Linked DNA regions of Homo sapiens. The protein of the gene in region 2 purifies or fractionates together with the protein of the main gene of each other region. This does not show direct contact. Each region holds a gene or a part of one and is shown on either strand. Other genes may lie near its edges.

Region 1 (8,464 bases), on a different chromosome or scaffold from region 2:
GACAGGTACCGGACCACAAGCCCTGCGGTTGGGGATCCCTGCCCTATAGCATCTTGCTGATTGAAGATCTTTGGCTTCATGGGAACTTAATTTATTTTATTTTTTTGAGACAGAGTCTTGCTCTGTCGCCCAGGCTGGAGTGCAGTGGCACAATCTCTGCTCACTGCAACCTCCGCCTCCTGGGTTCAAGCAATTCTCCTGCCTCAGCCTCCCCAGTAGGTGGGATTACAGGCATGCACCACCATGCCCAGCTAATTTTTATATTTTTTAGTAGAGATGGGGTTTTACCATGTTGGCCAGGCTGGTCTTAAACTCCTGACCTCATGATCCGCCCGCCTCCGCCTTCCAAAGTGCTGGGATTACATGCTGTGAGCCACTGCTCCCGGCTGGAAACTTAATTTTTATGGCCATAATTTTTAACTTGTGAATCTTTTTTTTTTTTTTTTTTTTTTTGAGACGGAGTCTCGCTCTGTCGTCCAGGCTGGAATGCAGTGGCGTGATCTTGGCTCACTGCAAGCTCTGCCTCCCGGGTTCACGCCATTCTCCTGCCTCAGCCTTCCAAGTAGCTGGGACTACAGGCGCCCGCCACCAGGCTGGCTAGTTTTTTGTATTTTTAGTAGAGACAGGGTTTCACCGTGTTAGCCAGGATGGTCTCGATCTCCTGACCTCGTGATCTGCCTGTCTCGGCCTCCCAAAGTGCTGGGATTACAGGCATGAGCCACCGCGCCCGGCCTAACTTGTGAATCTTTAATCCAAATGGTATTAAGACTTTCTGTGTTAAAGCCAGAAAGACTAGGACCTTTACCAAAGCACTGGCTTTCGCCTCTGCAGTGGCGGAAGCAATACTTACCTGTAAGGATTTCTTGAGGATTATTAGAGAAAGAAAGGATCCAGTATAGAACTTGTTACATACTGAACTTTAAAAAAAAATGGGGGAGGGGCATTTTTGTGTTATTATTATTTTAAAATAGAGACAGGGCCTTGTTCTGTCCACCCAGGCTGGAATGCAGTAGTGGGATCACAGTTCATTGCAGCTGCAGACTCCTGCGTTTAAGCAATCCTCCTGCCTCAGCCTTCCTCTAGAAGATAGGAATATAGATGCTCATCACCATGCCTGCCTGATTCGTATTTTTCTCTTTCTGTTTTATTTTATTATTAGTTTTGAGACTGAGTTTTGCCCCATCACCAAGGCTGGAGTGCAGGGGTGCAATCTCAGACCACTGCAACCTCCATCTCTCAGGTTCAAGTGATTCTCATGCCTCAGCCTCCTTAGTGGCTGGGACTACAGGCATGTGCCACCATGCCTGGCTAATTTTTGTGTTTTTTTTTAGTAGAGGTAGGGTTTCACCCTGTTGGCCAGGCTGGTCTCGAACTCCTGACCTCAAGTGATCCATCCGCCTTTGCCTCCCAAAGTGCTGGGATTACAGGCGTGAGCCACCATGCCCAGCCTTATTTTTTATTTTTGTAGAGACAGGTTCTGGCTATGTTGTCTAGGCTGGTCTTGAACTCCTGGTCTCAAGCAATCATCCTGCTCCCAAAGTGCTGGGATTATAGGCATGAGCCCCCACTCCCAGCCTTTGGTATTATTTTAAGACAGAATGAGAAACACTGGATATACCAATCTTAGGATACGCTAATCTTTTGGCATCAAGAGTGGTGGTGAAGTAAAAATGTTTTTAGGAACTAAATATTTAGGGGATAATTATTTGTTTCCTTGTTTCTAGGGTTATTCCTAATTGTCAGTTCCGGTCAAAAACAGCACGTCTTAAAACTTTTACTGCCAACCAGATAGATGAAATAAAAGACCCTTCTGGACTCTTTTACATCCTCCCTTTTCAAAAGGTAATCCAATTAATTATGTTTCATTTCTAGCATTGTAGACCTAAATTTAAAGATAATTTTAATTGTATATAAAAGGCTGTGTGTAACTTAAATTTTAACTACAACCTAATTAAACCCAAATTAAAATTTAATTGTTTGGGTAAAAATAAACGACCATGATTTAGTTACTTATTGTGAGTACTGATTTTTACTTACATTAAATCTAAGTGGTATGCACACATTAATTTAAGAAAATAAGTATAGGGAGGCAACTGTATATATTGGTGTGTCTTTTGAACCTCTGACATTTTAGTTATTGCTTATTTGTGAGTTTGTTTTTTAACTTTTTAAAGGAGAAAAACATACTAACATAATTGGTTTGAAATTCATACAGCAGTATACCTATGTAGTAAACCTGCACGTTCTGCACATGTATCCCAGAATTTAAAGTATAATAAAAAAATTTTTTTTTAAATTAAAAAAAAGAAATTCATACAGCATTACACTGGAAATGGTAACCATAGATAGAAATCAGTGATTTGGAATCTGATTTTTAAAAATTATTCAAATATTTATAATCTGATTTTTAAAAATTATTCAAATGTTCTTGATAATTAAATTTATAAAAACATTTTTTAGGGCTACTTGGTGAATTGGGATGTTCAGAGACAAGTTTGGGATTACCTTTTTGGAAAAGAAATGTATCAGGTAACAAATTAGAGTATGTATTAAAATTCTATTTCCATGTTTAATTGTAATGAAAAATTAGAATTTACATTTTAAGATTTATAAACTTATGAATAATGTTCTCCGCACATTTAAAATAAATAATAAATGCAAGTGAATAAAATTTCCATGTTGAAGTAGAGGTTGAGTAAAGATAGTCTGTATGAAACTCAAAATTTTACTTCAGATTTCTATTATTAGATCAATTCACTATATCATCTTAATTTTCACAAACGTTTTTGCTTACATATCTAAATACATGAATATTACAAGAGGATTTTGTGTTTTTAATGTCTGTAATGTGATTATAGGTATAAGGAGAAAATGTTCAAGTTTTAATACTTCTCAAGAATGTGTGTGAGAGAATTACATAAACTTGAATATCTTAAGCATCTTGCCCTTTGCCTTTTTTTTTTTAATTTAAAACATCTGCAGGCCAAGCGCAGTGGCTCATGCCTGTAATCCCAGCACTTTGGGAGGCTGAGGCGGGTGGATCACTTGAGGTTGGGAGTTTGAGACCAGCCTGGCCAACTGGTGAAACCCCGTCTCTACTAAAAATACAAAAATTAGTCAGGCATGTTGGCACACACCTGTAGTCCTAGCTACTTGGGAGGCTGAGGCAGGACAATTGCTTGAACCTGGAAGGTGGAGGTTGCAGTAAGCCGAGATTGCACTACTGGATTCCAGCCTGGGTAAGACTATGTCTCAATAAATAAATAAATACATAAATAAAACATCTGCAAGTTTTTTTTTATTATGATTTTCTTTTCTTTTTAATAGACATGGGGTTTCACCATGTTGCCCAGGCTGATCTCAAACTCCTGGGCTCAAGCAATCCGCCCAAGCGTGAGCTACCGCACCAGCCCCATCTTCTCTTGTTTTGTCTTTGTCTTGTTCTGTCCTTTTTTTTTTCTTTTTTTTTTTTAGGGGGAGTCTTGCTCTGTTGCCCAGGCTGCAGTGCAGTGGCATGATCTCTGCTCACTGCAACCTCTGCCTCCTGGGTTCAAGTGATTCTCCTGCCTTGGCCTCCTGAGTAGCTGGGATTACAGGCATGCGCCACCACACCTGGCTCTTTTTTTTTTTTTTTTTGTATTTTTAGTAGAGATGGGGTTTCACCGTGTTGGCCAGGCTGGTCTGGAACTCCTGACCTCAGGTGATCTGCCTGCCTCAGCCTCCCAAAGTCCTGGGATTACAAGCTGAGCCATCGTGCCTGACCTTGTTTTCCTTTCATTTAGAAACATAACAGCCCCAATATTTGTTGTATCATTCATTAATGTTTCTATAATTGTCTTTAAACAATTTTATGGTAACATTTTCTTTCATTTTTTAGAGACAGAGTCTTGCTCTGTTGCACAATCATGGCTCACTGCAGCCTCAATTTCCCAGGCTGAAGCAATTAGCCTACCTTATCCTTCTAAGTAGCCAGGACTACAGGCATGCACCGCCATGCCCTGTTAATTTTTATTTATTATTATTATTATTTTTTTAGTAGAGGTGGGGTCTTGCTGTGTTTCCCAGGCTGGTCTCATATTCCTAGCCTCAAGCAATCCTTCCACGTCAGCCTCCCAAAGTGCTGGGATTACAGGTATGAGCCACTGTGCCAGGCTGGTAACATTTTATTAATGCTACCTCTAACAGAAGTAAAATTGCATAATAGTTGAGTACATGGATTCTGTAACTAGACTCCCTGGATTCAAATCTTACCTATGTCATTAAATAGCTCTATGAACTTGGTCACTTATTTAACTTTTCTGTGCCTCAGTTTGCTCATCTATTAAATGGGGATAGTAATAAGACATCACGATTATTGTGAGGATTAAATAAATTTGTTTGTACATGTAAAACAAGTGTTAATTATCATTACAAATTATGAAACATTTTGGAATGTTTTCTCCTATAGGTTGATTTTTTAGATACTAATATTATTATCACTGAACCATACTTTAACTTCACTTCAATTCAAGAATCAATGAATGAAATTCTATTTGAAGAATACCAGTTTCAAGCAGTATTAAGAGTAAATGGTGAGTTCAAGTTTTCACTGAAATTGAGTTATATGACTATGGATATGAATAGGGTAATACTCATAAAGTCCCAAAATATTAAGTGGCATTCTTGGCTAGCACAGTGGCTAACACCTGTAACCCCATCAGTTTGGGAGGCTGAGGCGAGTAGATCACTTGAGTTTAGGATTTGAGATCAGCCTGGGCAGCATGGTGAAACCCTGTCTCTACAAAAAAATAGAAAAATTAGTTGGGCATGGTGACACGCACCTGTAGTCCCAGCTACTTAGGAAGCTGAGGCAGAAGGATCGTTTGAGCCTGGGAGGTTGAAGCCGCAGTGAGCTATGATCGTGCCAGCCTGGGTGACAGAGTGAGATCCTGTCTCCAAAAAAAAAAGAAATTGAATTCTGTGAAGCTTGAATATGGATATGAACCAAGTAAAGAAACTCTTAAAGTTCCAGAATACTATGTGGCATTTTTTAGATTTGAAGGAAATAAGTCTTGGATTTTTCTTTTTCTTTTTTTTTTTTCCGAGATGGGGTTCTGGTCTTGTTGCCCAGGTTGGCATGTGATGGAGCAATCTCTGCTCACCCTCCACCTCCTGGGTTCAAGCGATTCTCCTGCCTCAGCCTCCCAAGTAGCTGGGATTACAGGCGTTCGCCACCATGCCTGGCTAATTTTGTATTTTTAGTAGAGATGGAGTTTAACCATGTTGGTCAGGCTGGTCTTGAACTCCTGATCTCAAGTGATCCACCCGCCTTGCCCTCCCAAAATGCTGGGATTACAGGCATGAGCCACTGCGCAAGTTTTGGAATCTTAAAACTAAATGGACCCTTAGAGATTATATAGTCAGACATCTCTCATTTTATCTTTTTACTAATATTTCTTCTAATGAAGTTACTGGCCACATATTTCTTATTTCTGAAAGATTCTGAGGTAGTTATCTTTCCTGTCATTTATGTGTTTGCAATTATTATTGTTTGTTTGTTTGTTTTTGTTAAGTCAGGGTCTTGCTCTGTTGCCCAGGCTAGAGTGTGGTGGCACAAACATGGCTCACTGTAGCCTCCACCTCCTGGGCTCAAGGGATCCTCCCGCCTCAGCCTCCCAAGTAGCTGGGACCACAGGTATGTGCTGCCACATCTGGCTGATTTATTTATTTTTTGTAGAGACAGGGTCTCATTTTGTTGCCTAGGCTGGTCTCGAACTCCTGGACTGAAGTCATCTTCCCGCCTTGGCCTCCCATAGTGCTGGGATTATTGGCATAAGCCACGGCTCCAGGCCGAATTCTTATTGTTTGAAATAATGTTAGTAGCTCAGGCTGCCAGTGTGAGGGAGAACAATCTGTAAATATCATCTAGAAGCAAGTGTATTACAGGCTTAGATTACATGACATGGTTGGGTACAATGAAAGTATTTAAATATTTAACTTTCAGAATTTAAGTCCATATAAGCAGCAGTATGGGCAGTGGTTAAGGGCACAATCTCAACCAGGTGTAGTGGCTCATGCCTGTAATCCCAGAACTTTGGGAGGCCAAGGCAGCAGGACCACTTTAGGCTAGATGGTCAACATAGTGAGACTCCATCTCTACAAAAGAAAATTAAAAAATTAACCAGGCATGGTGGTGCATGTGTACAGTCCCAGCTACTGGAGAGGCTGAGGCAAGAGGATCACTTGAGCCCGGGAGGTGGAGGTTGCAGTGTGCCATGATCATTACCACCGGGAAGGTGCTACTGGCATCTCATGGGTAGAGGCCAAGATGCTGTTAAACATCCTACAACGCATAGGAAAGCCCTCTACAACAAGGAGTTATCCAACCCCCAATGTCAATAGTTCTGAGGTCTCAACCTACTGCCTAGGTTTGAATCCTGGCTCTGGTACTTCCTAACTGTGTGGCTTTGAGCACATTACTTTACTTCTCTGAGCTTCAGGTTCCTTATCTGTAAAATGGAATTGTTTTGAGTATTAACACACACACTCATTATACAGATTTTAGAATAGAGTCTGGCATGTAATAAATGATCAGTAAAAATGAGCTGCTGTTGTAGTAATTCTTTTAAACTATGGAGTGAATATTTACCTTTAAAAACGGATACCAAATTTTTATTATGTTTACCATGTAAGTGTGGTGTTTTAAAGTATAAACACAATAAAGATCTTTTGACAGTTATGAATAGTATTATAAATTAACATTTTTCTTGTAATAAAGGGAACATTTTTGTCTTGGTGCTTGTCTTTGTTTCCTACCTTTTTAATTGCTTTAAATTAGTGTTATATTTTTGTTCACTTTTTTATCTTTTTTTAAATAGCTGGGGCTCTCAGTGCACATAGGTATTTCCGAGATAATCCTTCCGAATTATGCTGTATCATTGTTGATAGTGGATATTCCTTTACACATATAGTTCCTTATTGTAGAAGTAAAAAGAAAAAAGAAGCAATTATTCGGTGAGTTGTATTTAATTTTCATGTTGTTTCTAAAGATTAAACAGAATGATATGTGCGATAATTAAATTTGAGTTCTCCCCTTGCAGGATAAATGTGGGAGGAAAACTCTTAACCAATCATCTAAAGGAGATCATATCTTACAGGTGATGCTTAGCTTTGATTCTTTGGGAGGATGGGGCTCTGGGGAGGAACCTTTTACAGTAATTTAAGATTATTCCTTACTTTTAAGGCCAGTCATTGTGACTCACGCCTGTAATCCCAGCACATTGGGAGGCCGAGGTGGGTGCATCACTTGAGGCCAGGAGTTCGAGACCAGCCTGGGCAACCTGGTGAAACCCCACTTCTACTAAAAATACAAAAATTAGCCAGGTGTGGTGGTACACACCTGTAATCCCAGCTACTCGGGAGGCTGAGGCATGAGAATCATTTGAACCAGGAGGTGGAGGTTGCAGTGAGCCGAGATCGCGCCACTTCACTCCAGCCTGGGTGACAAAGTGAGACTCTCTCTCTCTCAAAAAAAAAAAAAAATTGTAAATGTTGTACATTAACATAACTTATGCTACTATTTTTAATTTTATTGTGTTTAACACATAAGTAGAATTCTTAAATCTCAATTTCTTGTTACATTAACTTTGGATGGTATCATACCATCAGGATCCCTTTGCTCCCCTATGTGCCCTACTCCTTTGTATTTGCTCCCTGACTGTGTCGCTGACCCCTGGCAACTACTAATTGGCTTTCCATCGCTATATGTTTGTTATCTGAAGAATGTTAGTTTCTTTTTGTTTGTTTTCTTTTTACAATTTTATTATTACTATTATTGTTATTTGAGGCAGGGTCTCACAGTGTTGCCCATGCTGGTCTCAAACTCCTGGGCTCAAAAGATCTCCCATTTCAGCCTCCCTTAGTAGCTGGGATTACTGACCTGCACTTCGCGCCCCTGAGCTTGGCAAGAATGTTACAGTCTCAGATAACTAGAAGGAGGATATTGAGTGTTACCAATACACAAAAATGGATAAGTGTTGAAGATGATGAATATTCTAGTTATCCTGATCTGATGCACTGTGTGGGTTTCTTTTTGATTTTGAGACAGGGTCTTTGTCACCCAGGCTGGAGTGCAGTGGTTTGTTCATTACTCACTGCATCCTCAACTCCTTGGCTCAAGAAATTATCCTGCCTCAGCCTCCCAAGTAGCTGGGACCACAGGCATGTGCTACCACACCTGGCTAATTTTTGTATTTTTTTGTAGAAACAGGTTCTCACTATGTTGCCCAAGCTGGCCTTAAACTCGTGGGTTTAAGCTGTCCTCCTGCCTCAGCCTTCCAAAGTGCTGGGATTACAGGCGTAGCCACAGCTCCCAGCAAAACATCACTGTGTACCTGAGAAATATGTACAATTATTACATGTCAGCTTAAAATATATATATATATATGTTTTAAAGATACTGGTGGGAGAATGAATACTGGGATGG
Region 2 (8,464 bases):
TATCATGTGTTTGGTAAAAGGTGATTGCAGGTTCTCAGATGAGGTTACTTTACATGGGATGGAATCAGGCAGAGAGGCTGGGATGATGGAGAAAGCTTGAGGTGCAGGTTTTAAAAAAAGGTGTGGAAATTAAAGTTCCAAAGAGGTGGTTGCTGAGGAAGTGAGAGAGCCCAGGGCCAGTAATGAGAGAGCCCAGTCAGTAATGGGTGAGTCAGGTTATTTGGAAAGTTGGTATGACAAATACATGGTATTTGTCTACTTCTAGGTTGCTGGTAGGTATTAAATATGCACAATATTCCAGAGCTCACTGAGGGTTTTAAAATTATAAGCATAGGATTTTATATTTTGGGGTGAAAGAGTTATCTGGCACATGGTATTGGGTTTTTTTAAAAAAGACAAATTTCACAGTCTTAATAGCTTTAAAAAAAAAAAAAACTAAAAGGTGCTTCATGTCTAGTGTGTGGCCTTCCTGAAACTTATGGTCATCTCTCCCACTGAAATCAAGGTCTTTTGAAATGTGGCTAAATGGGGATGAGAAAACATGTGTAGGACTTTCTTGGTGTGTGTGCATTCTTTAAAGAGCCCAGTTGCTTCGGGGAAACAGTCAAGAAAATGGTCAAGATTGTTTTTAGAGGTAATTTTATTGGGGATTTTAAAACTAATAATATCTTGAGTTATTTTTAGTTCAGGGGGATGTGGAAAGGTTTGCAATTGTGAAGTGTTTTATTTTAGCTTAGTATCCATAAGGGAAACTTAGACTGTAGACATAACTACAAAGCCAGTGCAGTTTTTATTTTCTGTATGTTGTTGGGGGAATCAAGTTTTACATATAGCAAGCACATGGCCTCCCTGATGTCAGGATGCCTTTGTCAGGATCTGTATTTGCCCTTAATTTTATTGAAATAGCTTTTCCTTCTTCCTCTTGAAAAGTTCCAAAATATAGTTTATTGTATCTTTCATCATTAAAAATTTGTTCTTTTTTCACTACAGGCAGTTCACACAAGGCAAAAACTATTGAACAGTTGGTTTTAGTGGGTCATATAACTTTGCTGTATATCAAACTAATTTTGACAAGTTTTCATCCTAAGCCTCAAATCATGTAATTAATAATTTGTCTGTTTATTTGTGACCTAATTGTAATTCTTTTATTAATAAAAGCTAATGGGAAAAGGATCCCTGATTAAGCTGATGACTAGACCTACAATTAATTTTCCTGCAGTATATGAAGTACCAGAGTATTAAAAGATATTTAATATTTTATTGATAAATCTTTTAAAGGGAATATGTTTTAGGATGTCATCATTTTGATGTGAATCATGTAAATGTTGATAATATGCTGTTTATTATACATTTAGTGTTTCAAGAGATTCACTTAATTGCCTTTTTGCCCACTTACATTATGTAGTCTATTTGCAACTGTTTTTTAAAAAAATGACATTAAAAGAATACTTTATGTAGAGAAACATTAGTGGATGTTAATTGTCTCCCCACCTATATTTATGGGTGTTAGCGCAACTGCTTTGCTAGTTGCAAAGCTGTATTATCAGAGTAAAAGTGTATTTGTAAACTGTATGGGAACTAAAAATTAGGAATAAAACCATTTTCTTATATGAAAACAAAAAAATTACAACTGAGATGTATCCATCTTGAGTCAAAGCTTTTAACATTGTATTATAGTTTTGTCACTAAATTTTTATTAAAAGACAAATTGACTTTCCACTGCCTTCTACACAGGGGCAACTTATCTTCTTGGTCTTCAAGGCTGTATCCGCAACTGGCTACATAATTTGTGAGACCCAGTGCAAAGTGAAAATCGAGTCCCCTTGTTCAAAACCAATTAAGAATTTCAAAACAGTAACAGCAAAGCATTACTCCAAGCACAGGGCCCTTCTAAGCATGGGGCCTTGTGCAATAGCACAGGTCACATGCCTATGAAAGCCTTCCTGGCTGCACCCCCATCTATCCAACCTTATTTGCTACTAAGCTACTAAAGTTCTGCTGGTTCTTTTTCTGGTTCCTCTGGTCATTTTGATTATGTGACTCTCTGTTCCTGGAATTTTGTCCCTTGTCTTCTGTGCTTATCTAACTCCTAATATCTTAAATCCTTTTAAGGCCCAGCTAAGTACCAACTCTGTGCTAGGCATCTTATTCACTTTATCTCATTTAATTCTCAAAGCAATACTACTATACAATGACTTGTGGAGGACATATCCAAGTTCTGATTGTGATATTTAACTTTTCATGGATGAATATGTCAAAACAGGCATCAGACTATATCCTGAGGGTCTTTCTGTAGATTACGTAACTCCTCTTGTAAATTAAAAACACAGACCATCTTATGTCCAGAGTTTCAGATAATGAAACTGTCTTGGCTTAAAATGACAATGAGACAATAACTGTTTTGATTTCAAATACCGCCCAAGGAGGTGGACCATGAAAATAAGCACTGTTTTCTGTACCAAACAGACCTGTAGAAATACAACGAAACTGGGAAAATTTCGATATTGAATATGAAATCAAAGGAAGTATACACTTAGCATTAGAAGATATCATACGTAGAAAAAAAGATTGCGAACAATCTGCTATACATTGTATTATAAACAGATTAAACACAGTTTACGTCTCAACCTATATATTTTAAGGAAACTCAGTTCTTTTGATAGATAAATTATTCTAGAAATCAAATGTGAGGCACAAAATCCTTACAAACTGGATTACTGAATTATACCTATTAATCACAGCATTGTTTCAGACAGCATAAAAGAAAACCCTTCACTGAAATATCTTAATGATTATATTTGAATAGCAAGGAAAATATTAATACAGTAATCTTATGATAAGAACTCAAATATTAAGTCATTCAACTTATGTTCAAACTGGGGAAACAGTGGCCAAATAGTGAGTAAAATGCAAGTACAGAGATACATATTAAGTACTTTCAAGACTTGGGAGAATATACAAATTAAAGAAGCAGCTAAAAATACAGTATTTTATATGTATAAAGGTAAGAATTAAATGAAAGAATAGGATGTTCAACTAGTGTCAAGATACCAAACTGCTGATTACAAAGGACACACAGTATCTTACAATGGAGTGCTGTGGTGGTCAGCACCTTAACCAAATGAACATATCACTAATGGTGGAAAATCCTGAAATTATGACTCCTGTTGTCATGTAATAAATAGCAGACAATATCACTTATCTAGCATACCCGACAAAAATTCTAATAAAAATCTAATCATGAGGAAACAGTGATCTACAATGTTAGACATTTTATAAGACATCTGGCCTAGACTCTCTAAAAAAGTCAACATAATAAATTTTAGATTATGTAGCTGAGCTAAAAACAACAATAAAAAGGTGGGAAGAGTTCTGTGTATTCAGAAATTCAAAACAGGAATAATTAAATGCAATGCAATGTCCTCAGTTGAATCCTAAATCCAAAGAAAAAGCTATAAGAGATATGTGACTACTAACTATATATTAAATGGCATCACAGAATTACTATTAATTTTTTTTTTTTTTTTTTTTTTTTTGGAGACAGAGTCCTTCTCCATCATTCAGGCTGGAGTGCAGTCGCGCCATCTCGGCTCTCTGCAACTTCTGCCTCCCAAGATCAGGCGATTCTTGTGCCTCAGCCTCCCAAGTAGCTGGAATTATAGGCTCGTGCCACCATGCCCAGCTAATTTCTGTATTTTTAGGAGAGATGGGGTTTTGCCATGTTGGCCAGGCTGGTCTTGAACTCCTGACCTCAAGTGATCTGCCCACCTTGGCCCACCTAAAGTGCTGGGATTACAGGCATAAGCCACCACTCCCCGCCTGAATTACTATTAATTTTGTAAGGTGTTATCAATTTTGCAAGTGTGTGCTTCTTCTCGGGAGACTCATGCTGAAGTATCTAGAGGTGAAGTGTCATGATGGCTACAATTTCCTTTCAAATAGTTGAGTAAAAAAGAGAGAGAGAATACATGCGTGCACAAGTTCAATGTAACATTGTACCAACTTGGTGAATATAGGTGAAGTAAACACAGTATTTACTCTACTAGTCTTGCTTTTTGATGAACTGAAAACTTATAAAATAGACTTTCTGAGAATAAGATATAATGGGAAAACTGACGTTTCTTCCCCAGGGATGGTATTTACAGTACTAAAAAGATGTTAATGAAAATATTCCTGGCAACAAGAAAACTCACAGCAATAAAAGACACCTGGTTCTCATCTCTTAAGTCTTCACAGTTGGTTGTTTTTATACTTCAGGGATTTTAATAACAACAAATACTATTTAGGAGGTCACACATTAGAGGAATCATCACCCAAAGGAAGAAGAGACAGACTTCAAAAATCATAGATTCTTAAATGGAGGACAAAAGACCTGCAGAGGCTCCATGGAGTGGCTTCAAGAAACACACATATCCTTAAAAACGAATGACAAACTTGCACATGAAAGTTGTTTTGAGAGGAGAATTCTATAGCTTTCATCAGACCCTTAATGAGTCCTATGACTCAAAAAATATTAAAGAACCATTGTGCCCAAGAAAAATAGTATTCAGGATATAATTTCATATGATATCTACCAAAATATTAGGTATTTTAAGGTAATTTTTCCGTAAGTTTCTTTTGGCTTTCTGATTGTAAAAGTTTTAATAGTACCTAAATGATATTAATCATTTCTATTTTTTATCCAAATCTGCCTCGATCTTGGAATAATAATTTTTAAAAATTATTGAAGAAACCTTGAAGAAGGCCATTTAAAATAATTTGAAGTTAGTAAATTTTTAGAAAGGATTATAATTTCTTTTTACAACAAAACAAAATAAAACTTACCGTTGAGGTGGTGTCCGTGGGCTCTTGAAGACTGTGGCTTTAGGTCTATTAGACTTGGAAGATTTGCACTTCACTTCATCTTCATACAATTCTGCCAAGGCCAACTACATAATAACAGGCTTGTTACAAAGTATAACACTAGGAATAACCTCTTCCATACAACTAGAAGTTATGTATAGAACACTAACTTAAAATTGAGTGGTAAAGACTTTTCATGAAAAAAGCTGCTGCTTCAGATGATTCCTTTCTGAAATAAACTTACTGCATCTCATTATATAGAACTAACCAAAATGCCACATCTATTAGAATAACTTTAAGTTATAATAATTACTTGATTATTTTCAATTAACTACTGAACAGTGTCAAAATCTGTTTTAGGTAACAAACCATTTTCAAATTTAAACCTAAAATTCTTGTGCAATTCTTTTAAGAATTCCTGAAGATGTTCACACTAACGTCAGCTTCTTCCATCAGATCTCATAAAATAGTTTCATTCAGCTATTCAAGTTTTCAAACTCCAAGCATATAAAACAATTTCAGAAGTATTCTATTTAAAAGTCTACCAAACTTATAAATTTCATCGTGTTTAGGAAAATGAGTTTCTGAACAAACAAGACCATAAATTATATATGGTTTATATACCATTTAGAAAGTAATATTACCAAATTATACATTCTAGATATTGGCTGGATAGTTTATTTCAAAATGAAATAAAATTATATTTGTTCTTAAAATGGAATTTTAAAAAGTAATCCAATATTTCAGTATTGTATAGAATTTTTTCTGACTTTTGACATCTTTGGACAACAACTCAACAACTTTCTTTAATGCTCCTGTGGCTATTCAATTATAATTGGCATGACCATAATCTCCGGTTTTTTTTTTTGTTTTTTTCAAAAAAAACCCAAAAAACAAACAAACAAAAAAACCCAAAATCATAACAAAACAGATTAAAATGCTCCTTTTAGACACACAAATGATATGAAAACTACCTCCAAGAAGAACAGGGCATTGGGGCAATGTTAATTCTTTGAAAATTCTATTAGTCAACTTTTAAAATATACACAAATAAAACAAAATGAAAGACTTCTAATTTTTTTACCCCTACCCTCCCACATTCAGTAACATTCATATTTGTACAATGGCAACTTTGCTAGAAATCTGAATTATAAAAGTGTTTGGTAATCTAAAAGGACTGAATTCAAATCGTAACTTAGGCACTTCCTGTGTGATCTTGGGCAAATTATTTAATTTCTCTGAGCCTTAGTTACCACATCTTCAAATGCCTATAAAAAATCACCGTAGTCATTTGAAGGATTAAATAATGTATGGAAAGCACAAAGCATGTGTTCCATCACTAGAAGATATTATTCTTAAATGTTTAGTAATGATTGTATCAGTGTTTCATTTTCCCCAAGATTTTTTTTTCTTCCTACAGTGTTATATCTCCTTATGGTCCTTTACTACTCCATCCCCTCCAAAAACACAAAACAAAAAACAAACAAATGATAGAGGAGAGAGAGACAGACATGCACATACACAGTCTGATGACTAGGGTCTAAAGTTTTCAGAAATTTTACCTCCCTGAAATTTCTTTAAAGTAGTATTATTTTATGGATTTCCTTCTAAGCTCATTATGTCAGCTTTATGAATTACTTTTATGATATTCCTATTCTCATCAATGAAAATGTCATCTGTATTTCAAAGGCCCATTTCAGCTCTCCTTCACAAAACCTTTTCTAATCTTCTTAATATCTTTTTTTCTAAATACTCATAGCACGTAATACCCCCAATGACATTCATATTAAGCATTATGTTGTCATTACTTGTGTACTTTTGCTGTTTTATTTCCCCAACTAGATTTTAAGTTTCTCAAATTGTTTCTAATATTGTACCTAAAAGGCAACAAATTGACGTTGAATTATATAAAGAACATAATAGAAAATGAATCAGAAATAGATATAGATAGATGTATTTTAAATTGGGGTTATATTTGTTAAACACTTTTTGCTTTAACAAGATTTGAATAAATGCTTCCAATCAAATAACAATTTTCTTTGGTGACATAAATTAAAAAAGCAAAAATGCCACTAGCCCCATGGAATGTGGAACATACATTAAGAAAAGAGGAATATGAGGAAAATGATATTAAAGAGTCTACCTGGCTGAAAGATCCTAGTTATTAACGGTACATCATTAAAAACTTAGAAGAAAATGAGTAATATTTAGAGGGAGTTGATGCCATATGGCATCATATGGCATGAGTTCATTAGTAAATACTACAAAGAAATTTAATTTATATTATTTAACATAGATGACATTACATCAAAAGAGGAAATGATAATTTAAATTGATAAATATTAATTGAAGTACTGGTCAAAACTAACACAACAAAAAAATCTCAAAACGTAATTAAGAAAATGTTTCAATAATATGCAGAGGATAAAGTATGTAAGTAAAGTATTGATAATCTTTCCTCTAGAATTTGAAATGTGAAGAACTTGAAACCTGAAAGCAAAGGAATCGGGTGAGAAAATAAAGTATATAGCAAAATATTAAAAGTATTGGAATTCTCAGCCTTAGAGTAACCAATTCTAGACGCTGTAATAAATGATTATTATACAGACACCTGGGAACTTCTAGGAAATGCATATGCTTAAACTCTACTCTAGAACCAATGAATCACACTCTGGGGTAGGGCCCAGCAATCTCTGACAAGCCTTCCAGGTCACAGATGCATACTAGAGAATCAACGATACAGAATAATGACATTCAATATGATTAGGGTACTTGTGGCAACACAGTTATCAGAACAGCTATCAGACATTTTAATTCTTCTCATTTATAGTACCCACTATTGAGTCCATCCTAACAAATCCAATCCTAACCCTAACAATACTGAAGTTATCCCTGTTCCCACTCCCTCCCCGTCCAACCTATGTAGAAACAGATAATATGTGGAGGAAAACTGGGACAGAGTATACAACTAAATACCTTAATGAACATGTGTGTGGCGGGCTGAGGGACACCAGAAGAGAAAGCAATTCAGAAATACTATTGAACACTGGTGAGGTTTTGGGCTTAGTTTTGCCACTAACAATCCCACCCCTAACTTTCCCCATGACCATCTCCTTATTTGAGGGGGATGAAGGGAGCTATGAAAATCTACTCTGATATGCAAAAAAACATTTCCGAGTCTGCAGTTTGTAACCTGGGGGCTCCCAGGGCTGGGAGGCCTTTTGGGAAGCAACTATGCAGCTTTTCTCTGGTGGTACCTGGAACACTCCCTCCTGATTCAGATGCTGACAAACCCTACACTGCATGGCAGCTAAGATACACTTACTCAGGGGTAATTCTGCTTGTTCCAATTGGTAATATGTTGCCCCTTTACTCACTCTGAAAGACTCTTAGAGCAAGCTGTTAGGGAAGTAAGAAATATCTACTGAAAGCTGCACGAACTGCGTAACTCTTAAGAAAAGCATGTCTAGATTAAACGGTAACAAGATAATCTATAAATAATCAATATCCAAGGTACCATTTGGGAAGAACATTATTTAATTCTTTTAAACTTTTGATACATACTTTATTTCTTGATATGCCATCCCTTTGGCTGTTTTCAAGTTTCTTTGCAAGTTCTTCA
Region 3 (5,134 bases), on a different chromosome or scaffold from region 2:
CTCTCTCCCCGTCCCTCCCTCCCCTCAGCACCTGGGCAGCCAGTAGTTTCCTGTGATTTCCCTGTCTGGACATTTCGTGGAAATGGAATGCCCAGCCTCTCGTATGGCAGTGTGTTTGACCTTTTGTGCCTAGCTCTCACCTGGCATACTGTTTTGTGGCTCACCCCCGTTGTGTAGCATGCATCAGTGCTGGCGTTTCTATTGCTAAATAATATTCTCTTGTATGGCTAGACCACGGTTTGTTTTCCCATTCTTCCCCTGAGGCACATTTGGGCTGTTTCTGTCCTTCAGCTGTTGTGAGTGGTGCTGCTGTGAACACGTGTGTGCACATATGTGTTTGAGTGCCTGTTTTCACATTCGGGTTTATGCCTGTGAGTGGGATTGCTGGATTTATGTGGTAATTCTATGTTTAACTTTTTGAGGAACCACCAAATTGTTTTCTGCAGCAGTTGTACCATTCTATATTCCACCAGCAATGTGAGGGTTCTCATATCTCGACATCCTCACCAATACTTGTTCTTGTTTTTCTTCTTTTTAATAGTCGTCCTGGTGGCTATGAAGTAGTACCTGATTGTGGTTTTGATTTGCATTCTCTAAAGACTTATGTTTAGCATCTTTTCATATGCTTGTTGGCCATTTCCGTACCTTCTTTAGAGAAATGTCTACTCAAGGCCTTTACCCATTTTTGAAATGGGTGGTTTGTCCTTTTGTGGCTGGGTTGTAGGAGCTCCTGGCATGTTCTGAGTACCAGGCTCTTGTGAGAGATGTGATGTGCAGATGTCTTCTCTTGTTCTATGGGTTGTCGTTATTTACATTCCTCATAATTAATGTCTTTTTTTTTTTTTTTTTTTTGAGACAGAGTGCAGTGGCACGATCTTGGCTCACTGCAACCTTTGTTTCCTGGGATCAAGTGATTCTCATGCCTCAGACTCCCAAGTAGCTGGGACTACAGGTGCCCGCCACCATACCTGGCTGATTTTTGTATTTTTAGTAGAGGCGGGGTTTCACCATGTTGGCCAGACTGGTCTCAAACTCCTGACCTCAAGTGATCTGCCCGCCTTGGCCTCCCAAAGTGCTGGGATTACAGGCGTGAGGCACTATACCCGGCCTAGTACAGCCATCTTAACAATATTTTTACTCCACGAACATGAGATGTGTTCCATTTATTTAAGCTATTTTTTCAGCAATGTTTTGTAATTTATAGTGTACACATTTTTCCCTTCTCTGGTTAAACTATTCCTAGCTATTCTTTTGGATGCTGTTGTAAATTGAATTTTTTTTTTCAGTTTCCTTTTCAGTGTGTTCATTTCTGGTGTATAGAAACACAACTGACTTGTGTGTGTTGATCTTATACCCTATAACTTTGCTGAGCTTATTAGTTTTTTGTGGATTCTTTTCTTTGGGATTTTCTACGTGTATAATCATGTCATCTGCAAAGAGAGATAGCTTTACTTCCTTCCTAACTTGGAATCCTTTTCATTTCTGTTTCTTCCCTGATCGCTCTGCCTAGAACCTCTAGCCCCATGTTGAATAGCAGTGGTGAAAGCAGGCATCCTTGCCTTGTTGCTGATCTTTTTTCTTTTTTTCTTTTTTTTTTTTTTTTGAGACAGAGTCTCACTCTACATGTAGCCCAGGCTGGAATGCAGTGATGCGATCTCGGCTCACTGCAAGCTCCGCCTCCTGGGTTCACGCCATTCTCCTGCCTCAGCCTCCCGAGTAGCTGGGACTACAGGTGCCCACCACCATGCCAGGCTAATTTTTTTTTGTATTTTTAGCAGAGACAGGGTTTCACTGTGTTAGGATGGTCTCAATCTCCTGACCTCATGATCTGCCCACCTTGGCCTCCCAAAGTGCTGGGATTACAGGTGTGAGCCACCGCACCCGGCCCGTGGCTGATCTTAGGGGAAAATTTTGTCTCTCACCATTGGGTATGGTTAGCTGTTTTATTTTGTTGAGGAGGTTCCCCTCTATTCCTAGTGCTTTTCTCAGGAAAGAGTGTCGCGTTTGTGACTTTGACTGCTTGGTTGCAGGTGCGCACCACTGTGCCCGGCTGATTTTTGTTTTTTTTGTTTTGTTTTGTTTTGTGACGGAGTCTCGCTCTGTCGCCCAGGCTGGAGTGCAGTGGTGCAGTCTCGGCTCACTGCAAGCTCCGCCTCCCGGGTTCACGCCATTCTCCTGCCTCAGCCTCCCCAGCAGTTGGGACTACAGGTGCATGCTGCCACGCCCGGCTAATTTTTTGTATTTTTAGTAGAGACGGGGTTTCACCATGTTAGCCAGGATGGTCCCAATCTCCTGACTTTGTGATCCGCCTGCCTTGGCCTCCCAAAGTGCTGGGATTACAGGCGTAAGCCACCACGCCCGGCCTGATTTTTGTGTTTTCAGTAGAGATGGGGTGTTACCACATTGGCCAGGCTGGTCTCAAACTCCTGACCTCAAGTGTGATCCACCCACCTTGGCCTCCCAAAGTGCTGGGATTACAGGCAGGAGCCACTGCGTCCGGCCCCATCTGATTTCTTCACTACAGAGTTGCTGTCTTTTGTAATGATAATTACCATGTTATTTTTGAGTGGGATTAGACATCAATTTGTGACTCTCACCAGCACGCCTAAGGGCCCCACGAATCGCTGGTGTAGAGCGTGTGTGTTTTCATAACATGAAGGGAGAAGAGCAGTTGCGACAGTTGTCCCTGAGCAAACATTTGCATCCAGCTGGGCACGCGTGCCTCCCCAGGCTAGGGCAGCGGGTGCTCACCCTGCCCTCTTCCTGTTCACAGCCTGATTCGGACTCCACCAAACACTCAACTCCATCGAATAGCTCCAACCCCAGCGGCCCACCGAGCCCCAACTCCCCCCACAGGAGCCAGCTCCCCCTCGAAGGCCTGGAGCAGCCGGCCTGTGACACCTGAAGCCGCCAGCTCGCCACAGGGGCCAGGGAGCTGGAGATGGCCTCCAGCGTCAGTGCCAAGACTGAGCGGGCCCTCCAGTGTTGTCCAAGGAAATGTAGAATCACTTTGTAGATATGGAGATGAAGAAGACAAATCTTTATTATAATATTGATCAGTTTTATGCCGCATTGTTCGTGGCAGTAGACCACATCTGTTCGTCTGCACAGCTGTGAGGCGATGCTGTTCCATCTGCACATGAAGGACCCCCATACAGCCTGTCTCCCACCCCTGACAACCCGAGAGGGCATATGGGGCCCTGCCAACACCACTTCCTCAGCAGAAACCCGTCATGACGCGGCTGCTTCGGAAGCAGACATCTGGGGACACAGCCTCAGTACCCAGTCTTTTCCCTAGTTCCTGAAACTTTCCTAGGACCTTAAGAGAATAGTAGGAGGTCCTATAGCATTCCCAGTGTCACTAGAATTTTGAAGACAGGAAAGTGGAGGTTAGTCTGTGGCCTTTTTTTCATTTAGCCATTGCACAGTCAGCTGCAGAAGTCCTGCTGACCACCTAGTCATGGACAAAGGCCCAGGACCAGTGACACCCTGCGTCCCTGTGTGCATTAAGTTCATTCTGGGTCGCAGCCATGAAGTGTCACCAGTATCTACTACTGTGAAGTCAGCTGTGCTGTTTTCCATTCGCTTCCACGGCTTCTGCCTCCTGCCATAAAACCAGCGAGTGTCGTGGTGCAGGCAGGCCCTGTGGCCTGCTGGGCTGAGGGAAGTCAGAGCCCCAGGGCGCCACGAAGCAGCCACTGGGATACCCCACCCCGCCCCGCCCTGCCCGCCCCCCCCCCCACCAGTCCTGCCCCCGCATGGAGCCCCCGTGATTAGTAGCCCGTATGATCACGTAGACCCACCCAACACACTCCTGCACACTGGCCCCGGCCCACGGCACAGCAATCCCCTGCGCGTGGATTTCACCTCACCCTTTGTACCAGATGTTGAGTGACCAGCTCTGTGGCCCTGTGTCGTCAGAGGCTTGTGATTAACTGTGGCGGCAGACACAGCTTGTCCACAGCTTGGGCCAGGCTTCCCCTGTCCTCCCACCGGTCGGCTGCTTGGCAAGGCTGTTCAGGACGTGCACTTCCCCAAGTCGGCACTGAGTGGCCCAGCACCGCCTAGCCCTGCCACCCCACTGCCCTCCTGGGCCTTCTGCTGGATGGGCACCTGGGGGGTTCTGGTTTTTACTTTTTTAATGTAAGTCTCAGTCTTTGTAATTAATTATTGAATTGTGAGAACATTTTTGAACAATTTACCTGTCAATAAAGCAGAAGACGGCAGTTTTAAAGTTCCCAGTGGTCCGTTTGGATGTGGTAACATGTCACCCGTGTGTCTGGGCCCCAGAAGTGCCTGAGCTCCAAAAGGCAGTGAAGGAGCCACCTTGCAGAAGATGCTATTCGCCAGCAGAAGCTATTCTGGGTAACTCACTCGGAGGTCACCCAAAAGGCTGCTGTTGGGGTGTTCAGCCTGAACAGAGGGCATCCTTGGGGCAGGAGTGAAGGGAGGAGGGCAGCGTGCCTGTGAGCCCCAGCCAGGCAGTGCCAGGGCCCCAGGAGCAGGCTGCCCGCGAGGGTCTGCCTGTCCACACCCATACACGCCAACCCTGCCAGCAGCCCCAAGGGACAGGATGGGGTAGGCCAGAGGCCCCAGGAAGAGGCAGGAGTTCTCGGGGAGGTCTGGGCCAGGGTGAGTGGTCCCTGGTTGAGGGAATGCTCGGAGTCAGTTTCCTGAGTTATGCAGGGAGTTGGCTTCTATTTGCCACTCACTGAGACCTAGTTGTCCTTGGTAGGACAAGGGCAGTGATGGCCCCTGCAGAAGAGTGCGGACCTGGGAGAAGACTGCAAGCCAGGGCAGGCAGCCCAGCACCCAGCGGGGGCACTTGGGACCTTGAGCTCTGTGCCAGGCAGCATGGCCTGGGCTGCTGCTGCAGCAGGCGGCTCCCCTGGAAGCCCAGAGCATCTCTCCTTCCACAGTCCACACCAGAGGCAGGTCCCTGCCAGCACAGTCCATCTGTGACGGGTGAGCAGTGGGTGGCAGGTGGTGTCTGGTCAGCTCAGGCTTGCTCTCCAGTTTGCACCTGACACTAAAGAAAATTGTGGCTAAAAAGTGCGTGTGGGAGTATCGGCCACTTCTTTTAAAAATGCGAGATGGTAGCTGTTGGAGCACACACGTGAACTGTGGCGGTCAC
Region 4 (8,464 bases), on a different chromosome or scaffold from region 2:
GGACCCCTGCGGCCCTGTAAGCACACAGGTGGGTTCAGGCGGAGGCCGAGAGTTCCTGTCCCAGCATCCCGCTCTGTGCATGGATGTGCACGTATGTCTCGACCTGGACACTGCAGCACCCTGCCCTCTGACCCTCCCAGTACCCCCCATCCCGGAGGGTTGCTGCAAGCAGTTTCCAGCCCAGCTGTTACCTAATCTTTATCCCCTGTGTTCTGGTCACCAGCTCAGCCTGTGTCTTCCTGTCCCACCTGAGCCCTTGCAAGGCACACTGGCCATAGGGCCTGGCAGGGCACCTGCATGACCTGAGGCCGGCCCTGGCCTCCCCTTTGCCTAGGCTCTGGCCATCTGCCCCCTCCTCTCGGATTCCCCTCCCTGGAGAGGGACTGATGAGGGGCATCTGCAAGGAAGGCCTGAGAAGGGCTTTTGTTTTTCTCAGTGGGGAGGATTTCACGGTGGGGAGTTGGAAACGCAGAGGCAAGCCCGCCTCATGCAGCAGGTGCCACCAGCAGTTCACATGCTCTGGGGCTGGATGTGACGGCATGTGCCCGTCTCCCGGGCTGCCATGCACATCAGGCATGTGTGGGAGGCGTGCTGCATATACCTGCCCACCCATGCACGGGTCCAGCTGTGCCTCCTGCGGGGCGAGGCTCAGAAAGACACTGGTGGCAGAGTCCGACATGGACTTATAAGCACGGCCTCCCCGGCCACAGGCAAGCGGGCGTGAGCGGAGTGCAGCGCCCCTCCCTCCATGCTTCGGTGACATCAGGCGTCGGCTTTGAAGGAGGACATCAGGCGGTGGAGACAGGGGCACCTCCTCTTAGTGGGCGGCTTAAGATGAAAGCCCAGACGTCGGTACCCTGACTCTCAGGCTCCTGAGTACAGGTGTCCGTGAGCCGCATTCCGGAGCCAGTGCTGCTCGCCCCTCCTGTGCGGTCCCTGGGCCCTGCCGGCAGCTCCACGTCCTGCCAGCGGCCCCGAGACTGGAGGTCTCGGGGGGAGCCCCCAGGCCACGCACCACAGGCCAGGGTCCTTGGGAGCGCCCCCGGCTGTCAGGTGCCTCCTTTTGGTGGTTGTGGGGCGCAGTGGGGCTGAGGTCTGTGGCCTGGGCCTGGGCCTGGGACGCTGTCCTGGGTGGGTGCTGGGTGAGGGCCCCACACCTTTGCTTTCCGAGTCTCCTGCCCCAGGGCCTCCGTGGCACTGGTTGAGCTGCCCTGGGGTACCTGATGGTTTCTTTCCTCTCCTCCCAGGGAGTGCCTGCAGCACCCCGGCGGGGCCACCCCAGTCTGCGTGTACACGAGGGATGAGGTAGGCGGCCTGCTCTTGCTCACCCAGTCCCCGCTCACTTTCAGCCCACTTTCCAACTGGAAAATCTGCTGTCCCGCAGCCGTCTCCAGGGCAGTGGCGGGAGACTCGGGCTCTTGAAAGCACGACGTGTTTCATGGAAAAAGAGGGAGTGGCCGGCCCTCGGAGCCCGGGCTGCCCCGAAACCTCCCTCGGCGCCCTGTTTGTTTTTTCAGCTTCTCTCAAAGCCCAAGAGTCACAAAAGTGGTTTCATTTAATAAATATTTGCTTTGCTCGGTGTTTTGATCATTTTCAAAACCGAGTGTGGCGTGGCGCAAGCAAAGCCCGCCGTGGCGGGACCCTCCTAGCGCTCGTCCCTGGCCTCACAGGGGCCTTTTGTTTCCACGCTGGCTGAGTGCCCTTTGCTGGGGTGGGGGGGCACTGGCCCGGAGGGGCCCTGGGGGGCCAGGACATTCCCCGCATTTATCCCCATTTGGAAGCTCCCTGGCTGGGGCTGTGACGGGGAGGTTCAGGTCTACGTCCTCCCTTGAGGGGATGAGCCACGGGGCTCAGGACCCAGGCCCAGCACTGTCCTGAGGCTGTGGCCCTCAGGGACCCTTACACCCTTTGGCTTTTGTGCTGGGCCATTGACTGTGCCCTCGCTAGAGGCAGCTTCTCCACCCCTTCCTCACAGGTCAGAGTTAGCGTATGGGACGTGGCCAGCCAGGCCCGATCCCTGCCCACCCCGAGCTGAGCACCAGGAATGGCCACCCCCGTGGGTGACAGCACGTTCCTGCCTCTCTCGCTCCGGGCAGTGGGTCCTGGCACCAGGGCTTCCTCCTTGCAGCCCAGCTCTGCCAGCCCAGGCCTCAGTGAGCTTGGGTCCCAGCTGCGGAGACCAGGCTGGGGGAGACACGGTCAGGCATGGGCAGCAGGTCCTGCCCCGGCTGCAGACCAGACTCAAGCTGGGCCTTGTGGAGGGTGTGGACCGGCAGGGGCCAGATGTGGGGGGTGGGTAGGATGGAGGCCAGAGAGGGCACGTGGCCTGTGGTCCTGGTGGTGCCGGTGCCCGGAGGGCTTCCCTGGGCTCTGGGGTCCCGGTGCAAGGCGCACCTGTCCTGGCTGCTCCTCCTGCAGGTGACGGGTGAAGCTGCCCTGCGGGGCACGACGCTGCAGTCGCTGGGCCTGACCGGGGGCAGCGCCACCATCAGGTAAGGGCAGTGCTGCTGGGGCCGAGGAGTCTATTTAGCTAAAAAAAAAAGTGGTCTCAAAGGAAAGGAGAAAGGACACGTGGCAAGTGGGGAGTAGGTGTACCCAGGCCCTCATCATGGAGAGCGCCTGGTGGCCTCTGCCTGCCTGTGGGCGTGGGGGCTGGGCTGCCCCGACCTCATCTCTGTGTCCCCCAGAGGGGCGGTGGATCTTGGGAGGGCGCATGGGGCAGGAGAGGGTGAACCGGGGGCGGGAGAGGGTGAGCCGGGGGCGGGAGAGGGTGAGCCTGGGCCGGGAGAGGGTGAGCCGGGGGTAGGCACCACAAGGTGCTTCCCTTGTCCTCTGGCCCCACTCAGGTTTGTCATGAAGTGCTACGACCCCGTGGGCAAGACCCCAGGAAGCCTGGGCTCGTCAGCGTCGGCTGGCCAGGCAGCCGCCAGCGCTCCACTTCCCTTGGAATCTGGGGAGCTCAGCCGCGGCGACTTGAGCCGTCCGGAGGACGCGGACACCTCAGGGCCCTGCTGCGAGCACACTCAGGAGAAGCAGAGCACAAGGGCACCCGCAGCTGCCCCCTTTGTTCCTTTCTCGGGTGGGGGACAGAGACTGGGGGGCCCTCCTGGGCCCACGAGGCCTCTGACATCATCTTCAGCTAAGTTGCCGAAGTCCCTCTCCAGCCCTGGAGGCCCCTCCAAGCCAAAGAAGTCCAAGTCGGGCCAGGATCCCCAGCAGGAGCAGGAGCAGGAGCGGGAGCGGGATCCCCAGCAGGAGCAGGAGCGGGAGCGGGTAAAAGGGGCTCTAGGCCTTGGGACTTGGGGGTGTCCTTTCTCCTGATGTGTAGCCCTGCGTGGCTTTAGCTGGTCAGCCTGGTGGCGTGGCCGTGATGCGGGCAGAGGAACCCAAACGCGCAGAGGAACCCAAACGCGGGGCTCTGGACAGGAGCCTTCTGACTTCGCCCAGGAAGGAATTTAGGGGTAAGCAGGTGGTAGAGAAAGTAGCTTTACTGAGACGGTGGCTGTGTCTGCTCCGGGATGAGGCCGTGTCCGCTCCGGGATGAGGCCGTGTGGGCTCCGGGATGAGGCCGTGTTGGCTCCATGACAAGGCGGCAACTGTGTCAGCTCCGTGTTGGCTCCGTGATGTGTGGCACAGAGCAGGGCCGCCCTGGGGTGGTGCATGGAGGGCAGCAGCTCAGGGCATGGCCGTGGTCACATTTACATCCACTCAACTACATGCACGTTAAGGGGTGGGGCATTCAGAAATCTCTAGAAAAGGGGTGGTAACTTCCGGGTTATGGCCAGGGAAGGGGGAGCTGGTGAACGCATCAGCCAGTCTTCAATCTGGTCTGGAATCAAGCCCCACCTCCTACCTGAGCAGGGTCACTGGGCTTGTTCTTAGCTTCTCAGGCAAATGATTTTTTTTTTTCTGGGTTTTTTTTTTTTTTTTTTTGAGACAGAGTCTCACTGTGTCCCTAGGTGGGCGTACAGTGGCGCGATCTCGGCTCACTGCAGCCTCTGCCACCCAAGTTCAAGTGATTACTCCTGCCTCAGCCTCCCGAGTAGCTGGGACTACAAGCGCGCACCACCAAGCCCAGCTAATTTTTTTGTATTTTTAGTAGAGACAGGGTTTTACCATGTTGTCCAGGATGGTCTCAATCTCTTGACCTTGTGATCCACCCACCTCGGCCTCCCAAAGTGCTGGGATTACAGGCGTGAGCCACCGCGCCCAGCTCTTTTTTCTGGTTTTAAACCACCTTTACTGAGGCACCCACTTTTTTTTTTTTTTTGAGATGGAGTTTTGCTTCTGTCGCCCAGGCTGGAGTGTGGTGGCGCACTTTCGGCTCACTGTAACCTCCACCTCCCGGGTTCAAGCGATTCTCCTGCCTCAGCCTCCCAAGTAGCTGGGACTACAGGCGTGTGCCACCACGCCCAGCTAATTTTTGTATTTTTAGTAGAGACGGGGTTTCACCATGTTGGCCAGGCTGGTCTCGAACTCCTGACCTCAGGTGATCCGCCCGCCTCAGCCTCCCAAAGTGCTGGGATTACAGGCTTGAGCCACCGCGCCCAGCCTAATTTATTTTTATTTTTATTTTTCATAAAGACGAGGTCTCTCTCTGTTGCCCAGGCTGGTCTCGAATTCCTGGGCTCAAGCGATCTTCTTATCTCAGCCACCCAAAATGCTGGGATTACAATTGTGAGCCACCTCACCAGGCCTGAAAGTTACTTTTTATAATATTGTGGATAGTATCATGCTTCCTGTTACATCTTTGACTGGCTGACTCCTTGCTAGTTCTAGTGGCGTCTTGGTTTCTGTCGGGGCCTCTGCAGACCTTTCCCTTTGTCCTCTCATCGTTTTTCTTCCTGTGTTGCAGCGAATGGGCCTCTGGTGCTTTTGGATCGTGGCGATCTTAGTAGACATCCTTCCTTGTCTTGATCGTAACAGGAATTACTAGTCATTTCTCTGCCAAGGATGATGTGTGCTATAAAAAGCCTTTATCAAGCAGAGAAAGTTACTATTCCTAACTTTCTGACATTTAAAAAAATCTTAAGTGGGTGTTGAACCGTTTCAGTGTTTTCAGCATCAATGGAGATGACCGTATGCTTTATTTTATTGGCTTGTGCATGTGTGTTCATAAGTGAGACAGACTTTTTTTCCTTGCTCTGTCTTCATCCAGTTTGGGAATCGAATTTCACCTGGCTCACAAGGGAGCTGGGCAGTGGCCCCTCTTTTCTGGGTTCTGGAAGTTCTCCGAAGGTTATGGCCACTGCTCACTGCAGACTACACCCACCACTGGGGCACTGGGCCCTTGGCGGGGAGTGCATGCAGGCAGGCGGCCAGGTGCTGACCTCCGAGCATGCCTGTGTGTGGCTGTGGCCTGACCCTCTCCCTCACGCCTCCCCCCAACCGTGGGGACCTCGTGTCTGTGGGGTCCCTGGCCCTGTGGCTGACTTTTCCTTTGTCCCTGTCCTGACCCCGCATCAGAGCCCTGCACCTGGGCTGCTGAAACCTGACTTCCTCAGCTTCCTCACCTGCAGAACTAAGGTGTTCGTGGCATTTATGGGTTTTGTGCCAAAAGAGGCAGACTGGGGGACTGTCATGCGGCTTTCGGTGACAGGGATGGGAGGAGGCTGTTTCCCAGCCCCTGTGTCCCCTGAGGGCCAGGCTGCCAGCTGCCAGCCACAGCCCAGGGGCCAGGTCAGAGCTTCTTGAGCTCCTGCTGACGTAGTGGGCCTGGAAGGCCCCCATGCCTCCATCTCCTGTGGACATTTAAAATATTTGTGTCTGGGCCTGTGGCATGGTGGCTCACACCTGTAATCCCAGCAGTTTGGGAGACCGAGGTGGGCAGATCACCTGAGGTCAGGAGTTTGAGACCAGCCTGGACAACATGGCAAAACCCTGTCTCTACCAAAAATACAAAAATTAGCTGGGTGTGGTGGCAGGTGCCTGTAATCCCAGCTACTCGGGAGACTGAGGCAGGAGAATCTCTTGAACCCGGGAGGCGGAGGTTGCAGTGAGCCGAGATCGTGCCACTGCACTCCAGCCCGGGTGACAGAGTGAAACTCCATCTCAAAAAAAAAAAAAAAAAAGAAAACAAGAAGTGGCCAGGAGGGCTCTGTGCACATGGCCCCGGCCTCGGCTGTCCCCTGGGCACTCGTGCTACGTGTCCCGGAACTCAGGTGAGGTCAGGAGTTTGCTTCCTCCTCCTCTGGCCACTTCTGAGTGAAGCAACCTCATGCCTCCCTCTTGCCTCCCGGCCACACACCTGGGAGGGCAGAGGCCGGGCGTCTGCACCGTGTTGGATGTGGGGGCTCCCATCTAGCCCGGCGTCAGGGTCCAGCCCCTCTGTTTTCTGTCCCCCTGGCTGTCCTGGGACTGTTCCTGTTGAGTGGACAAGGGAGTGGGGAGTGAGGGTGTTGGGTCCATTCTAGGACTATGATGGTGTTGGCACCCCATCCTCCCTCTGGGAACTCTGCCAAACTCTGCACTGTGACACCTGAGTCCCCATGAAGCGCTCGTGCCCCTCGACCCGTGTGCTCCGGGTGAGCAGGGGCTGACCCCCTCTAGGCCTGCTCTTGTGGGGACCCCTCAGTGTGAGAGACACAGTGGCTGTCATGTTCCCCCATTCTAGAGGCGTGGGCCTCAGCCCCTTCCCTCCGTGACCAGGGCGGGTCTTGTCTGCAGAGCGTGGGGCGTGGAGCATGGGGCTCGCAGCCCAGAGTAGTGCCCGCCCGTGCTCGCCCGTCGGGAGGCGCTGTTGGGGTGGGGTCTTGGCTGGCAGGAGGGGTCCAGGGGAGGGAGCGTGTGCCTGGCCTGCATGGCGTGCTGAGGGCCTTTGATCTGGGACTTGGGCAGCTGATTGATGGAGGGCGTCCTGCCTGCCCCGCGCCTCCCATCGCCGCCAGCCGCACACGCAGAGGGCCCGGGGCCACATGCCGCTGCTGGGTCCCTTTCAGTGATGGGGGGAGGGGAGAAGGGAACAAAACAGAACTTTTTTGGGGAACTTCAAAGGTACACTTTAGTAAGCAAAAAGAGTTTCCAAGTTTCCCATTAATGTTTTGCCTGTGTGTGGTTTTTGGACTTAAATAAAGAGTCAGAAGGAAGAGACAGGATAAAATACAGGCAGGTCCTCGGCCGAGACCCGGGGTGGTTCACAGACCCGGGCGGTTCCTGCCTTTGATGTCAGGCATTAATTATTAGAAGGTAGTTTTACTGGCGATCAGAACCGGGCGCTGGGAGAGGCTGGGGCTGCCCGGCGCCCCCTGGCCCTGTCTTTGAAGTGCCTCCACTGGCTGGGAGGCTGCCCTGCAGCCCTGTGCTGGGCTGGGACGCCAGTCCCAGCAGACGCCCCCCACAACTCGGCCTCCCGGCAGCTGGCACGAGGGCCGCTCCTGATCAAAGGCTGGGTCTGCCCGCACGGGCTGGCGGCTGCTGCCCTGCCTGCCCCTCCCGCCTCGGGGGTGAACCTTGCTCCTGGAGCCGGGGCCTGGGGTTTCCTCAGCACCCCTGCTCACACCCGGCCCTCTGTGGCTGACAGCCGGTGTGGGACTCGTGGGGCGGGGAGGAGCCTGTCCCAGGGTTTTGGGGGTAAACCAGCGGGGAGGAGGCTGGGCCTGGAGCGGGTCATGCACTGGGCGTGGTGAATACACCCTGCCTGGGACCCCCGTGTGCCTGGCAGGGCAGGTGCTGTTGACCCTGGGCAGTAGGTATTGGGCCAGGGGCTCCTGCCCCTGGACCCTGACGCCGGGCTAGACAGGAGCCCCCACATCCGACGCGGTGCAGACTCCCATCCCTGCGGCCAGCACAGTCAGTGGCCAGGGTGGCCCAGGTCCCTGCTATGCCTCATGGGTGTCTGAGGACAACCCTGGGCTCTGAGGCTGTCCCTAGGGGCACAGCCTGTGGCCTTGATTGGAATGGCCACCAAGCGTGGCTGGCAGATGGCTCAGCGACTTTGCAGGTGGCTGGCTGAGTCCCGGCTGTTTAGAAGCCTGGTGACTGACAGGCGCTTGTGTTTTGGTGAGGAACCCCGGGGGGTAGGGGGTGGATGCTCGCCACTGGGGCTGTGGGGAGAACTGGGAGTGTGGGGCTCCGTACTGGGCGAGTCGGCTGCTGCAGGGCGCAGACCCCACTGGCCCCTTCTGGCCTGGACTCTCCTCCCCGTTGGGCCCAAGATCCCCTGGTTGGGATTGTTCCAGGAACTCAGGTCAGGGGCCCCGTCAGCCCTTCCCGGGCTCCCCCAGGAGCAGCCTCCAGACTCTGCCCTGCGGATGACCCCCCTCACCAAACTGCTTTTCCTGCCTGTCCGGGGGTGTTGGTGCGCTTTATCCACAGTGACACACGCCTGCCACACCGTAACGTGCCCAGCTCCAGACGGGCTCATGGTCAGCCCAGGCTGCAGCAGTCCTGAATCCTGTTCTTATTTTTCTTTTCTTTTTTTTTTCTTTTTCCTTTTTTTTTTTTTTTTTTTTTTGAGACACAGTCT

Evidence for each region.
Region 1: the proteins of UBXN2B (region 2) and ACTR6 purify together in Homo sapiens (affinity purification with mass spectrometry; 3 studies listed by BioGRID and IntAct, with this or other methods). This does not show direct contact.
Region 3: the proteins of UBXN2B (region 2) and CDC42BPB purify together in Homo sapiens (affinity purification with mass spectrometry; 4 studies listed by BioGRID and IntAct, with this or other methods). This does not show direct contact.
Region 4: the proteins of UBXN2B (region 2) and ASPSCR1 purify together in Homo sapiens (affinity purification with mass spectrometry; 4 studies listed by BioGRID and IntAct, with this or other methods). This does not show direct contact.

The regions. Positions count from the first base shown.
Region 1 is NC_000012.12:100,203,216-100,211,679, forward strand, and holds part of ACTR6 (actin-related protein 6), read left to right. Parts: intron 1-1,724; coding exon 1,725-1,842; intron 1,843-2,460; coding exon 2,461-2,529; exon of another isoform or gene 2,530-2,542; intron 2,543-4,447; coding exon 4,448-4,571; intron 4,572-6,857; coding exon 6,858-6,993; intron 6,994-7,079; coding exon 7,080-7,136; intron 7,137-8,464. UniProt on the Homo sapiens protein: Required for formation and/or maintenance of proper nucleolar structure and function. Plays a dual role in the regulation of ribosomal DNA (rDNA) transcription.
Region 2 is NC_000008.11:58,413,314-58,421,777, reverse strand, and holds part of UBXN2B (UBX domain-containing protein 2B), read right to left. Parts: intron 4,929-8,464; coding exon 4,825-4,928; intron 1-4,824. UniProt on the Homo sapiens protein: Adapter protein required for Golgi and endoplasmic reticulum biogenesis. Involved in Golgi and endoplasmic reticulum maintenance during interphase and in their reassembly at the end of mitosis.
Region 3 is NC_000014.9:102,931,483-102,936,616, reverse strand, and holds the end of CDC42BPB (serine/threonine-protein kinase MRCK beta), read left to right. Parts: intron 1-2,773; coding exon 2,774-2,905; 3' UTR 2,906-4,237; downstream 4,238-5,134. UniProt on the Homo sapiens protein: Serine/threonine-protein kinase which is an important downstream effector of CDC42 and plays a role in the regulation of cytoskeleton reorganization and cell migration. Regulates actin cytoskeletal reorganization via phosphorylation of PPP1R12C and MYL9/MLC2.
Region 4 is NC_000017.11:81,993,574-82,002,037, forward strand, and holds part of ASPSCR1 (tether containing UBX domain for GLUT4), read left to right. Parts: intron 1-1,247; coding exon 1,248-1,305; intron 1,306-2,418; coding exon 2,419-2,492; intron 2,493-2,846; coding exon 2,847-3,273; exon of another isoform or gene 3,274-3,461; intron 3,462-8,464. UniProt on the Homo sapiens protein: Tethering protein that sequesters GLUT4-containing vesicles in the cytoplasm in the absence of insulin. Modulates the amount of GLUT4 that is available at the cell surface. Enhances VCP methylation catalyzed by VCPKMT.